Regions from separate parts of the Homo sapiens genome. Here region 2 is linked to region 1. Evidence: fine-mapped expression QTL. Tissue or cell type: unexposed skin. Region 1 holds a variant in brackets; the other region holds the start of a gene. All regions are shown on one strand. Distances are between the middles of the regions.

What was found. PIP is the estimated chance that this variant, and not a neighbour inherited with it, causes the effect.
Region 2: COL13A1 starts here. The variant in region 1 is fine-mapped to the expression of COL13A1 in unexposed skin (GTEx, PIP 0.95).

The regions. Positions count from the first base shown.
Region 1 is chr10:69,954,686-69,958,941 of GRCh38, forward strand. COL13A1 (collagen type XIII alpha 1 chain) reads left to right here. Exons shown (of 41, transcript NM_001368882.1): 40 at 2,319-2,357; 41 at 4,014-4,256. The coding sequence ends at 4,016. LOC107984242 (a long non-coding RNA gene) reads right to left here. Exons shown (of 4, transcript XR_007062181.1): 3 at 1,985-2,170; 4 at 210-293. Among named protein-coding and RNA genes, the nearest start is that of LINC02636, 53 kb to the right of the region's middle. RefSeq lists a silencer at 2,134-2,203. The variant G/C (reference allele first, on the strand shown) is at 1,749.
Region 2 is chr10:69,800,087-69,804,086 of GRCh38, forward strand. It overlaps COL13A1 (collagen type XIII alpha 1 chain), which reads left to right and starts at 1,820. Exons shown (of 41, transcript NM_001368882.1): 1 at 1,820-2,631. The coding sequence starts at 2,338. LOC124902444 (a long non-coding RNA gene) reads right to left here and starts at 1,685. Exons shown (of 2, transcript XR_007062179.1): 1 at 960-1,685; 2 at 1-50.

The DNA of each region.
Region 1 (4,256 bases):
CAGGATTAGGTTTTCGGATCCTAAAGGGTTTGTCCTTCTTGCTTAAATCTCCAAAGACATTACCAGACCCTTCCTCGTCCCTTTCTTTCATGATCAGATGGCTTCTTACTGAAGAGTCTGGGAGAGACGGAAAGGTCAAGAATGTAGTTAAGGAGGAGGCAGGGAGACAGCTAAGGACCTCTCTTCCAAGCACGTCCCAGGCGAAGTGGTAGCAGTTTATTCCCGCCTGCCCAGTCCCTCTCTAGGCATGGACAGTCTAGGCCTCCACGCTGATCCTCTTACTGCAAAAGAAGCTGAAGGGAACACTTCACTCCAAGGCTCAAGGGGTTACAGCTCTCCCCAAATTTCCCCAATAGGTTTGGAGTTCAAGAGCTATTTTATCATACCAGTAATAAGAGAATTTGGGGTCTCACATCCCCGCCCTGGGGTCACACAGGAATTCTCTTTGAACAAAAGAGAAAAAGATACAAGAAATTATGCTGTGTGACCCTGAAAGGTGGTCGTAGAGCCCCTTGAAGGGCAGTAGGGACTTTTTAGGAGGAGCATAGGCAACAAAAGGAGAGTGCAGAGCAAGCAGGCGGGTAGCATGCTTCCTGTCCCTGCTGGTCCTGCCAAACCCTGCGCTTGCAGACTGCACAGCCACCTTTCTCAACCAGGACTTCCACCATCCACGCACCAATGGGAATGCCGCTCTGGCCCGCAGGGGCTCCCTTGAGCACTGGCCAGGTCTTCCCTCAGCCACAATCCCCTCCCACAATCTGGGCACCTTTAGTTCTGCCAGCAGCTGCCTTGGCCTCTCTGTTCCTCACCATACATTACTTTTCATTCTCTGCCTGCCCTGCCCTCCATATCCCCCTGCCACCATCCACACACCAATGGGAATGCCGCTCTGGCCCACAGAGGCTCCTCTCCCTCCCGGCATCCATGTGACGTGTGTCATACCGCACCGTGGCAGGCTGGGGAAGGGGCACAGGGTCACCCTGAAACTGTGGAATGCACCTCCTCCCCCTGCAATCCCCTCCCCAACCCAGAGGGGAAAATGAAGGTCACCCTGATTTGACTCTCCATGTAAAATGGCATTTTCTTCCATAACATCCCATATCAATGTGTCAATTTTCTATTAATTTTACTGGGGAAGTGTCTTCCCCTTGTTTCTCACTCTGCCTCCTCCTCTGTGTTATTATGGGCTTGAGGGGCAGGGGTAGCTATTGCTCATGACTTTTACTACAAGATAACCAGACTTCCTAAGCCCTCCATATTGGGACCAATTTCTGCTGAATGCCAGGTGATGAGAGGTTTCAGCCCCTGGCGTGGGTGGATGACGTCAGACCAGGGCAGCAGAGGACTCTCATTCCACAAGCTCCCTCAGGACTGAGCACTTGCTCCGGGTCTCCTGAAGCCCCATGTCCATCTCCTTGTCTGCCCTGCCAGTCTAGCAGACTTGGGCTGAGAACCAGACCTTTGCCCTTGGCCCAGCCTCGCCTTCCCCACTGGGTCTCTAGATTTCTAGATTCCCCATAGGGTATGCCAGCAAGGAGAGGATATGAGGGCCCAAGAAAACTCAGGAAAGTTTCTATCACCAAGGGCAGAACACGAACATCTTGAGGCTAAAGGAGCTGCATGGTTGCTACCAACAAAGGAGACCGACGGTGTGCAGTTGATTCCCATGTTTTTACTGCACTTCACCCCCAAATTCCCAGCAAGGTCTAAGGCTTCGCCAGGAACCCTTGTCTTCTTGCCAAAGGCAT[G/C]TCAGGGCCATCCTGCAATACTCATGAGGTTGCCTGTCCCTTCATGCCCCTCACCCCACCCCAGGATTAATCATCAAAGAAGGACTGTCTACATGTCCTCCTCCCTGTGCTTAGGAAGAGAGACAAATAAGAGAATGAGAAGGCTGGGAAGGCCCTTAGCGGTCACATCAAGCAACTGTCCTTGCCAAGGTTTTATGGAGGAGGAAACTGAGGCCGCCTTGTGCTGAGTGGCTTACCCGTGAGCAGCCGGCACTCCATAGGGCCACAGCAGAGACTGTTTCTTCGTGGCACGGAAGGACATCTCTGCTTGCTGGTCCCACGGGCTAGGACAGCCCCTATTGACGTTGCACTATAGCTGCATGTGACCTTTAACCAATGGTAAAATAGCCGGATTTGTTTCCACCTCCTTCTGAGGTTCTGACCTGTAGTAGAGAAAAGAAATAGACAAGCGTGGGTGGGCCACATCCTGATCAGCTGCCAAAATGCGTGTGGCCCTTGTTACCCCTGTCCTGCCCACTTGGTGGACCATTGCAGGAAGTCTGAGCCCTCTGCCTTCCTTTCTCCTTGCAGGGCGAAGATGGCTTACCAGTCCAAGGCTGCTGGAACAAGGTAAGGCTTCCCATTGGTGTGCACTGGGGCTCCGTTCTCAGCAGTGCCATAAAGCTTCCACAATTTCCATTCTGCCTTGCTACAGATGAGGCAGCAAGACATAGGTCAAATAGTCACTGTCTCAAAGGCAGGGTGCCCATTAAACATCCCATACACTGCATGCTGTTAACAAACATTTTAAAATGCTTCTTAGAACATCAGTAAACCCTAGGCGGAATGTCCATGCAGCCACACAGGTGACATCTTTATGCTTTGTGTGTTCAATGTACATAGTGTCTTTCCCCCAAGGAACTTCCCCAAGGAGTTCCAGATCACACTCATAGAGTTCCTCTAAGGTCGTTTATGCCACGTGATGACATGTCTTAGACGTAGGACATCTCAGTTGCTTTCACTCTGAACTCACATGCTACTGTGCCTCCCCTAGGGGCTGTGCTCCTCACCACTCTACCACTCCCCTTGCATTTAAGCTGGCAGAGCTTCATGCCACCACACATGTGACCTGCAGCCAAATCTCTCCTGGGCTCCCAGAGTTCCTACCAACAATGAGTTTTCATTGATTCACACTGGCCTTGGCATTTGCCATTGTTAGAGCAGTCTGACATCATAGGACTGTGCCCTTGCATGTGATCGCCCCATTCAACCATGGCTCCCCAGAGCACAGGGCTGCCCAGGCAGACAGAGGCCATCTGCTTGCTAACTAATCCAGAAGACCCGCCTTGGTCCCCAGCAATGGTGGCAGCCACTATGCTGCCCCATACCGTCTCCCTCCACCTTGCCTGTCACTCCAAGTCTTCTCACCAACCCCCCACCACCATTGTCTCAAGGTTCATCCTCATAAAGGGACCGGAGACTCCAACATGTTCAAGAATCTGTGCTCAACGAATCCAGTCCTGTTCCAGTGGCAGCAGAGTCACACTTACAATGAGATGAACAAGCTCCCCTGTACTAAGATGCCAGAATCTCACTAGTGCACTGGGTTGGGTAAAAGTGGTGAAACCACCAAGACCCCAGGCCAACGCTGACCACCTACCTGCCTGGATACCTAAAGCACCCCCTAACCCAAGAAGGAAAAGCTCAACACTCAAGAGAGATGCCTCCCCAGAATCCATCCCTGGAGGCTGGCCTCGTCCTCCTGCCAAGCTCCACTTAGACCTAGTTAAAGCGCCACAAAAGCAGGTCAGAGGTGTCATAAGACCTCTGAACCCTTGACCCCTAAAAAAATTTCCTCTTTAAAGTTGCTGCCAATGGTTAGGAGACAGAAATGGTTGTGCTTAGCAGGGGAAGAACAGCCACTACCAAGAGCTGCAATGTCTTGGAGAAGCAACCAGAGAGCTTCAAGACTACTCATTCACACCTTAAGTCCAATCTGGGACAATGCAGTGGTTACAACAATCAGGCCTCCAAAGGCAGCAGAGAAAGAGAGTGCCCTCTAGTGACCACAAAGGGGATTCACAGAGAGGTGAACTTGGTTTCCTCCCTTCAGGGAGCTAAGGTCGCCACCAGTTTCTTTCACCTAGGGGCTCAGGGTTCCCACAGTTCTCCTGTCCAGAACTCCCATCCAACCCAGGACAAGATTTACCTCCCTTCCTACAAAGGAAATAAACCTCTGCAGACCCACTGAAACTAACAGAACATTGTTTTGTTTTTGTTTTGCAGTGATGCCTCTAACCTTGGATTGGCCTGTGTGTGTGTTTGTACATAGAATATTTATTTTTATACAGTTTTCACTTTTTGAAAATGCCAGAAGTATGATGCATCTTACAGATTATTAAAAAAGAAAGAAAAACCTGCATATTTTGTACAGAAAATATCAACCTCTTCCCTTTTGTTTACAAGATGTTTTGTATAAGCCTATGTCTCTAATACATTTTTTGTTTGGTCGTAATGTCTGCATGATAT
Region 2 (4,000 bases), 150 kb before region 1:
CAAACTGTTTAGATTTCACTGCCTGAGCATTCCTGAGGGCCTCCAAAGTCCTGAAAGGGAAAAGATCAGTTTGCAGAATAAGGAGGGAATGAAACTAACTCCCCACCTCAGTTCCTCCATTCAGACTAGCCTGGGAGGGGAGTGGGGGAAGTCCAAAGTCCCTGAATTTCCTGGCCTGTACCTCCCAGTGCAGAAACTCTCCAACGCCCCCTGGTGTTCTTCAATACCATCCAAGTCTCCCAAGGATTCATTCCTCTGTAGAGTGGACTGGGACATCCCATCACAGGGATGGAGAAAACAGAGTGCCCTTGCCACTGAAGCCATCAGGAGAATCCTAGAACTGGAACTGGAACCCAGAGCTCCTGGCCACGGGCTCTTTCAGCAGCATCGCCTTCTATTCCTGTTGTCCTCCATAGTGGCTGACTGGCCCAGCAGTCAATGTTACCTTTATTACATATGATCTCAGTACTTACTATGTTACAAGTCCAATATGCACTATTAAGTGTGCCACACTTTATTAGAAGTGCAGTGACACTGTATTATATATCAAGTTCCATCAGGTCAATATAGAAAATGGGAAGTTTGTACTGGCATGCCTTGTTATTTTGAAATGGAATCCCAGCACCACTGCTGCCCCCACCTCCACTGCATATTTGAAAACCCAGTCTACTCTCCTCTGCCCGCTGTTCCAGGAAGACAGGCTTTCTCCCAAAAACTCAGTCCCACCACCTCATTCACAGGAATGTCAACAGGCACAAGGAGATAAAGTCTCTTGGGATACAAATGCTACTTAATGTGGGGGGTGGAGGAGGTGACAAGAGAAGAGAGAAAACTACCAAATGCCCTTCAGGCCACCAGTTTTTCTCTAGTGGAATATAGGAAATGACAACAGGAGAGAGCCTGGTTAGCCCTAAGCCTCCCGCAGGGATGGAACCTGAGTTTGTGTAGGAATTGCTCACCTTTGATGACTGGGATGATTGAGGCAGGCTGGTCTCACCACACAGGGATAGATGGCATGGGTCTCAGATTAATGGCAGGCAAGAAGGGGAGATGTCAGGACTGGCAGGCGGCCCCAATGAGCCACCTCTCAGATACCTGGAATAAGATCTCCTCCGTTTTCAGTGTCTCATACTACCTCAGGTCTTGGTCCTGAGAGGAAGGGCTGCCAGCTCTGCTGCCCCCTGGAGGGCTGACTTTTCACCCCAGAGTAAAGATGTGGTTGGCCGCCCGGCACTGGAGGAGCTGCAGATCTCAGGAGGTACAGAGCCCCCGGGGAGTCGGTTGTCGGGGGAGAAGGAAGGGGAAAGAGGTTGGGGGCTTGGGAGTAGAGGAGCGGTGGCTGAAGGGATCAGGTAGTCCTGATCAGGACGTGGAGATCCACCCACAAGCCCTGACAATAACTCAGTCGAGTTCCTGGAGGGTCTCAAGGGCTGGGAAAGGTGGAGTGGTGCCTGCCCCAACGCGTCCATGGAAGGTGGTGCCCGCCTCACCGCCTCCGTGGAAGGCCAAACGAGCCCTCGGTGTGAATCCGGAGAAAGAGAGGGAAGTGCAGCGCCAGCTCCACTCCACACCCCCTTCCTGCCTATAAATAACCCCAAGTGTCACTTCAAAGAGGACGGGGAGCGCGGCAGAGGGGCTCCCGGGCCGGCGGGCTGGGGCCGCCGGACCTGCTCACCACGCCCCCCACCCTGGGCGAGTTTGCATAAATAAACAAATCCAAGCCGTCGGCCCCGCGGGAGGTGGAGGAGGAGTGACGAGGAGGAGGAGGAGGAGGGAGGGGGGAGGGAGAGATTAGTTTGGGAAGTAGCACGGATTGCTCATCCGATCCGTGCCGCCGCAGGGAGTGTGTCAAGTTACAGAGGCGCCGGAATCGGCCCCTGCGCTCCTCGCCAGCCGCCACGACCCACCTCTGCCCATGGGGCCCTCCGTGTGCGCCCCTTCGCCCGGGGACTGAAACTGACTGGCCCGGGAGACACGAGGCGCCCAGAAGGACTGACAGCGCGGCACCAACTGCTCTGCAGACACTTGAAGGGAAAGACTGGGCGGAGAGAAGGAGAGCCGGTCAGATTCCCCTAACTTTCCTGGACTTGGAACGTTCTTCGAAATAACTTTTTTCTCACCTAGGTGTACCCCAATTACCGCTGGTTGTGCTTTTTCGGCACTTCCTCTCCTACTGCTAATTTTTCCGTCCTCTTTGCCGGGAGCAGCGGAAAGGGACGTTTTCCAGCGATACAAGCCCTTTCCCCCTGCCCCGCAGTTTGGATAGAGCCTTTTGGCAGCGGCTGTCGCCTTTATTTATTCTATTTATTTATTTATTGGTTCTCAAGACGCGAGAGGATGGTAGCGGAGCGCACCCACAAAGCGGCAGCCACCGGTGCCCGCGGCCCTGGGGAGTTGGGCGCGCCCGGGACGGTGGCTCTGGTGGCGGCGCGGGCGGAGCGCGGCGCACGGCTGCCGAGTCCAGGGTCGTGCGGGCTGCTGACGCTGGCCCTCTGCTCGCTGGCACTCAGCCTGCTCGCCCACTTTCGGACGGCCGAGCTGCAGGCCCGGGTGCTGCGCCTGGAAGCGGAGCGCGGGGAGCAGCAAATGGAGACGGCTATTTTGGGACGAGTCAATCAACTGCTGGACGAGGTCTGTGCTCTTTGTTGCTGGCTTTTATCCCTCCCCGCGGCGCCCCCTCGCGCAGCCTCCAGACTGTTCAGCCGGTGTCCGCGGGCGCTCGCTCTCTGCGAGCCCCAGGTTCGCGCGAGTTGCCTGCGGGAGGGGTCGGGGACACGGACAGACGCTGCCCTACCAGGGATTCGGAGGACCTGGTGGGCAAGAGCATGACCCAGCGACTCCCGCCTCGGGCAAGCGCCCCCGGCTTCCAGCGCTGGGAGCGCCCTGGGCACGCCGGGCAGGTGGAGGAAGGCTGGGCGCGCGGAGGCTCGCGGAGGCGGGCAAGCTCCACTCCTCCCTTTCGGGACCCGGCCAGGGTGGTGTGACAGCCGCCCCGCGCCCGCGCAGCGGCAAGCGCGCCCAGAGGCCCAGGCCGAGGCTTACTGAGCCCCCATGGCCCTCCCCCTCCACCCCTTAAGGACCCGGGGGGTGCGGGGAGAGGGGACAGTTCTTGCAGGGGGTGGTGCCCTGGTCTCTGCTCACTGGCCCAGGCCGCTAGGGTCCAAGTGTGGGTCGCCTGGCTCTGCTGTCCTTGGCCACAAATTAGTCCACACCTTCTTTTTCCTAAACCAGGTTTCTTATTTTTCTGGAGAAAGGATGCTTTCTTCCATTCTCCAAATTTTTTTGATCCAAGTAGATTAAACACTACTAGCGTGTCAGGTAGCTATGGCAATCTTCGGAATACAGGAAAAGGCTGTCCCCTCCCCAGGAAGGAGGGACATGCAGCCTCTTTGTGCCACCAGAGGAAAGGCTGGGCCTTGACAGGGTGAGGCTTGATGATCTGTGGGAATCTGGACAGCACAGGGGATTCAGGGCCCAGATAGAGAGGAGGACAGGCAGGTGGGGGCCGCAGCAGTCTGGGAAGAGGTCCTGGAGCAGGTCCTGGCCATGGAAGGTCCTGGCCATGGAAGGTTTCCATGGGGAAGAAATGGGAGAGGATATCTTACTTAGCTGGAGGGAGTGTGCAGCAGTAAAGATCACGGTGGTAGAGGCCAGCAACCCTGGGTTTTTATCCCCACTCTGCTACTTGGAAGCTTGGGACAAACGCTCCAACCCCTCTGAACATGCGAAACAGTGCTGATGTAGCAAACACTGGAGCACAGCTCTAACTGTGGTGGGTGGGGTGCTGTGAGCATTTTGGCAAGATGTACCTATTCCCTATAGCCAGGCTCTTCTCAGCTGCCCCTGCCAGGCTGGCACCTGCTGGAGCAGTTCTCCAGGGTGGCCAAGGAGGAGATTGCAGGGCCAGAGCAGAGAGAGCGGTCACAGGGCAAGCGTACTGGTGCTAGTGGTGCACCCATGACTGCTGCTGTCAGCTCATTCCCACGCCCTGCCAGGCTCC